Linked DNA regions of Homo sapiens: region 2 is linked to region 1. A link means that fine-mapping ties the variant in region 1 to the expression of a gene that starts in the linked region. Tissue or cell type: transverse colon. Region 1 holds a variant in brackets; the other region holds the start of a gene. All regions are shown on one strand. Distances are from middle to middle.

Region 1 (2,754 bases):
GAGCTGAAATTGTGCCACTGTACTCCAGCTTGGGTGACAGAGTGAGACCCTGTCTCAAAAAAAAAAAAAAAAAAAAGCCAGGCATGGTGGCTCAAGCCTGTAATCCCAGCACTTTGGGAGGCTGAGGCAGGAGGATCAACTGAGGTTAGGAGTTCGAGACCAGCCTGGCCAACATGGCGAAACCCTGTCTCTACTAAAAATACAAAAATTAGCTGGGCATGGTGGCATGTGCCTGTAATCCCAGCTACTTGGGAGGCTGAGGCAGAAGAATCTCTTGAACCCAGGAGGCTGAGATTGCAGTAAGCCAGGATCGTGTCATTGCACTCTAGACTGGGTAACAAGAGCAAGACTCCGTATCAAAAAAAAAAAAAAAAATCAAGATGCAAACAATGCCTTGTCCTAACAAATGGCCTCATGACCCTCTGGTGCCACTGAAGCTGGGGAGTGGAAAACAGCTAAAGAAGGATTGCAGTGGCCAGCCAAGCTTGTGTCACTGTCTGTGTTTCTCCCTTCTACAGGCTTATTTGATGTTGTCTGAGGAAATTGTTCTCTGGGGCCCCCAAGGCAAAGCTATGTCCCAGGGACAAGAGAGGTGGAAGAAGGTGGTCTCTGTGATGGGCCAGAGCCAGGGAGAGAGCCCTGGGCAGGAGGGGGAACAAGAAGCAGCTGTCCTTGCCCCTGGCACCTGGGCTGGTTTCATGTTACTTCCTATGTTTATTTCCCCTTTGTCATTCCTGAACCTTGAACAATATTGTGTTAAGTACCCCAATCTTGACTCAGCTGTATTTAGGGAAATTGAGGCAATGATCCCAGGTGAAACCTGGGCTGGGCCAGCCACCTAAAGCCAGCAGGGAGTGGCCATAGAGCCCTGTATCAGAGAGCCAAGGGGAGCAGAATCCCGGAAGACAAATGAGACTTCAGAATCCAATCTTGAGTCGTAAATGCTAAGCCTGGAGAATTGAGATTTGATTTTATTACGAGTCAGTTCCTGTACAGATCATCTCCCTACAGCTCAGATCTGCTCTCTGGCTTTTCCCTACCATGAGGTCTCCCAAAGGCCACATCACTCAGAG[C/T]TTTCTTCCATTCCCTTCTCTAAGGGTCGGGGCAAACAGGGAGTTTTCCATTGATGGGAAAAATCTTCCCATCCTTTTTTACAGCCCAACTCTGCTCTGCCCAAGAGCAAGCCTGCAGTCATCCAAACATGATTATAAATATATTCATACACAGATTCCACTCCTCAAAGTTCTCTCACCGTGGAATGGGTTTATGCCAACAAGGTTATACAGTCAGCCCCCATATCCGTGGATTCTGTGTCCATAGATTCAACCAACCAAGGATTGAAAATATTTGGGAAAAAATTGCATCTGTACTGAACATGTACAGACTTTTTTCCTTGTCATTATTCTGTAAACAATACAGTATAACAATTATTTCCATAGCATTCATATTGTATTAGGTATTCTAAGTAATCTAGAGATTATTTAAAGTATACAGGAGGATGTGTGATGTAAGGTATACAGGAGGTTGCATGCAAACACGACACCGTTTTATATCAGGAACTTGAACATCTGTGGATTTTGGTATCTGCAAGGGGTACTGGAGCTAATCCCCCACACATACTGAGTGACGACTATATATGGAATGTGAACAGAATTTTCCCACTGACTTCCATTAGGCAAGCAGAGCTGTGTTTCTCTCCAAGAAAGGAGGGTAGAGGAGCAGAGCCTGGGAGTGGGAAAAGAAGGGAAGGAGGCCAAACGGAGATCTCATTACTCCAGGATGTGGTTTTAATTCTGTCCTTCTCTCACAGCCTCTGCCCCACCCTCTGTTTATTAAGGGGGCCAAATTAAATACACGAGATATAACTGCAACATGGAGACCCTGCCTCAGTCTCCAGAGACTGTGGGGTGCAGGGGAAAGTGGTGGGGGGGAAACCAAAACAAACAAACCACAAATCCAGAAGGAGAGAGAAGGCAGAAAAGCAAACTATCAGGGCCCATTTGAACAACTCGGACCCTGCCTTCTGTCTGTAAGAAGGGGCCCCGCCCATCTCCTGTGGCAGCCACCCCACCTGAGTGCGCTGGGAGGGCTCTCCGGCCCACAGAGCCACCTCCTGGCCTGCAAGGCCCCAGCCCTTCGGGAGTGACCAGACCTGGCCAGCGACACGCTATTCTCCATCACTCGCTACCGTGCTCATCCTGCGCTGTCAGGCCATCTCTCTGCAATTCATCCCCTCCCTTTCTAGCCAATTTTCCACCTCCACACCTCGTCCCTCCTTTTCCTCCTCATCCTAATCCAGGATGTCCTTTGGCCTGTCTGTTTGATGCTTTCCCTCCGTCAAGCTCCAGCTCAAGTCTTTCCTCCTTCAGAGACAACTGGGACCCTCCAGGCAGCCCCGACTAACTCCCTGCCTGACCCGCCCACGAAACCTTCAGCCTTTGCCTCTTGCCTCCCTCCTCTCCCTCTCCCCACCTCAAAGCCACTCTCAGCCAATGGCTCCTTCCCCATGGCGTAGAACCTGCACACAGCACTTCATTTTTTAAGTCCTCCTCCCATGACCTTGAATCTTCTCAACAGTCTGTCCAGTGCCCTCTGGGCCTTGCTTTTCCAGCCGCACCACAAAGACTGCCATGACCTTTGGAGCCTGGTCCAGTGACACAAGCTTCCTGCCGACTGCTCCGCAGTGCCCGGTGCCAGCCACAGCCATGCCCTCGGCTTGCATGATGTGGCCTCTCCTGCTTCTCCCTGTATTCC
Region 2 (2,754 bases), 38 kb after region 1:
CAAGGCTCATTCCAGTTAGAGTGTTCCATCACCCTAAATGCTGGGAAACCAAGCGAATCTCCTCCCACTTGCAAGCTTCCAACAGTGGCTTCCAACAGTGCCACTGCAGTATCAGAAACTGCAGGGAAGGTGCCAGGGCTGACTTCCATGAAGAAATAGGAGAACAGGCAGGCAGACATTGGGGAGGCCCACAGAATGTCGTGATCAGAATTCATAAAGAGGCTGGCAGGATACAAATCAATCAAATAAACGTTAGTTCAAAAAAATTCACTACACCTGTGAGTGAGAGAAAGTCATCAGCACTGTCTCTAAAAATGAGCCTAGGGCTTCTGGTGACATCCAATCGGTGGGTTATCAGGAGTGCCCCAGGTGATCAGGAGTTGGCCTCGACTCAGTCCTTTTTGTGCTGTCTCCTCCTCTTTCCCAGAGTTCCTCTCTCTCTTCTCCCACTAGGCAGGGATGAGCAAGAGGAATGGCTCACCCTTGAGAGCTGGGGTCCATAGCCCAGGTCAGTTCTCCAGCTCTCCCACTTACCAGCCAAGACAGGAGGTGAGGATTGAGATGGGATGAACCCAGCAGGCGGCCATGGGTTAAAGGTCGCCATGAATGTAATGTGCCCAGCACAGTGCCTGCTAAAAGGCAACACTCCCTTCCTGGTCTGAAGACCAAACAAGCAGACTGTACTCAGGAAAGCCAGAAGAACCTTCCAGCTGTCTGGACCAGAAGGTGCCAGCCCAGGGGCTGAAGAAGACGTAATGCCCAGAGCAAAAAGCGCCTGCAGCCCCCTGAAGGGCTGGGTGCTCTGGAATAGATGAGGGGGCGAAATGGGGCTGGGGACCAGGGACGGACAGGGTGGGTCCAGCACCTGCCTCGCTTCCGAAGGGCTGCTCCAACACTGAAAAACACCCAACCAGCTTCCTTTCAGAAAGACTGGAATATTCCAAAACTTCTCACTGGAGGCTCCGGAGGAGGTGGGCTCCAGCTGAAAAGGAAATGTGGAGGCGTGGGCGCTCCCGGCCTGCATCCTGCACCTCTTACACTTTGGTTTTCCCACAGACTCCTGAAGAATAGGTCAGAAGAAAGGGTTAAAGCCTTAAAAGGGGAACAACCATTGCGGGGCTCAGGGAGGAGGATAATGTTCTTTGGGCTGCCGCACCCTGATCCCCGGGGTCCCGAACCCTCCCGTCCCTGGCCAGGCCTGCCAGCCACAGGGTGAGGGCCCCCTTCCGCCGCAACCTGCCACTCTCACACCAATGCGGGACCGCCTTCTCTTCCTTCCCCACCCCCCACCCCACCCTGCCGTCCTTTCTCCCCCAATCTCCGCCTCTGATTGGCTGAGCCCCCGGCTCCCCGCTCCCCCTCTCCTCCATCCCCGGTGAAAACTGCGGGCTCCGAGCTGGGTGCAGCAACCGGAGGCGGCGGCGCGTCTGGAGGAGGCTGCAGCAGCGGAAGACCCCAGTCCAGGTGGGAACTGGAGCCGGTGGGACCTGGGGCTCGGGGACCGCCGTCAGGCGCCCATGCAAGACTTCCCAACACTAGGCTTCGGGCCACGGTCCGAGGGCGCCCAGGGAAGAAGGGCGCAGAGCTTAGGGAGGGGCCTGCTTTCCAGGCAGGGGCGGGAGGGGGATGCTTCTGCAGGGCAGGGGCCGCGTGGCACCCTGATGTCTTTCGGGGAAGGCGCTCCCGGGCTTTCGCCCGCTGGGGGACTGGTGTCTGGGGCTGGGGCGCTGGAGAACAGGGAGGAAGGGCACCAAGGACAGCCTGTGGGTCTACATTCCACCCAGACGTCCCCAAACCCAGCTCGCAGAGGCGGGGAGGAGGACGGATGAAACTGCGGGGAGAGGATGGAGGATGGCGAGCTAGAGGGAATCTGCCGGGTGACCTCGCGGCGGGCTGGGTGCGGGGCACCGGAGGAGAAGGAAGCCGCAGTGCCGCAGGCGGGGACTGGGTGGAAGGCGGGCGGACGGGGGAGGGGAGAGCTGGAAAAGGATGAGAGAGGGGGAAGGGGGACTCATTTGGGAAAGGAGAGGATTGGAATACGGAAATGGATTAAGGATGAGGCCCGCCGGGGGCTTGAGAGGGAGGAAGAGCAGACCTTCTCTGGGTCTGGAGCCGCCTGAGGACACAGACCAGAGGAAATGAATACAGACTGCACCTCCCCAGCCGCTCTCCACCCCTCCCCTGGCTCTTCTACCCTCTCCAGCCCCAGACCCATTTCTTCCCTTTCTTGCTCTGGCCATTGCTCCCCCTTCCCCTCCTAGATCCCAAGCCCGCACAACATCTCAAACAAGAGTCCTCGATTCAAAAGCCAGATGCCGACCCCCCTTCCTCCTGGATCTGGCTCAGGGCAGCAGCTCCACCCCGGGACAGAGAGAGCATTGATTGTAGCTGCAGCCGCCGCGGGATCCTAGCCTCACCCGTCAAGGGGCTGAGCGCCAGGGACCCTGAACTCGTCTAGTGGTGCGCCCTGCGCACCCGGGCGCACTCAACCGAGGCAATGCCCTGCGCGCTCTCGCGGGTGCACGCCCCTTCTGTGGCCTCTCCTGGGCGAGCACTGCTCTGCAGATAGGCTAGACTACCGGCTCCGCGTCGCCTCGCCAAGGGTTGGTTCAGCCAAGGCTGCAAAAAACAAAAAAAGACCAGGCAGACAGCCTATCCAGGGTGGCTATTGAAACTGGGCTGGAAAACTGCAGTCCCAGGAACTCCAGAGAGCTGGACATTGGGAAGCATCCTTGGCTCACATACAATCGGAGA

Alleles and levels. Alleles are on the strand shown, and positions count from the first base shown. SD is a standard deviation of normalised expression in the study named.
As copies of T replace C in region 1, the expression in transverse colon of the gene that starts at base 1,405 in region 2 goes down (small effect, 0.14 SD a copy in GTEx).

What was found. PIP is the estimated chance that this variant, and not a neighbour inherited with it, causes the effect.
Region 2: THY1 starts here. The variant in region 1 is fine-mapped to the expression of THY1 in transverse colon (GTEx, PIP 0.97).

The regions. Positions count from the first base shown.
Region 1 is chr11:119,459,674-119,462,427 of GRCh38, reverse strand. All of the region lies in intron 2 of USP2-AS1 (USP2 antisense RNA 1), which reads right to left. Among named protein-coding and RNA genes, the nearest start is that of THY1, 38 kb to the right of the region's middle. The variant C/T (reference allele first, on the strand shown) is at 1,074.
Region 2 is chr11:119,421,823-119,424,576 of GRCh38, reverse strand. THY1 (Thy-1 cell surface antigen) reads left to right here and starts at 1,405. Exons shown (of 4, transcript NM_006288.5): 1 at 1,405-1,464. All of the region lies in intron 2 of USP2-AS1 (USP2 antisense RNA 1), which reads right to left. RefSeq lists enhancers at 1,527-2,092, 2,093-2,659.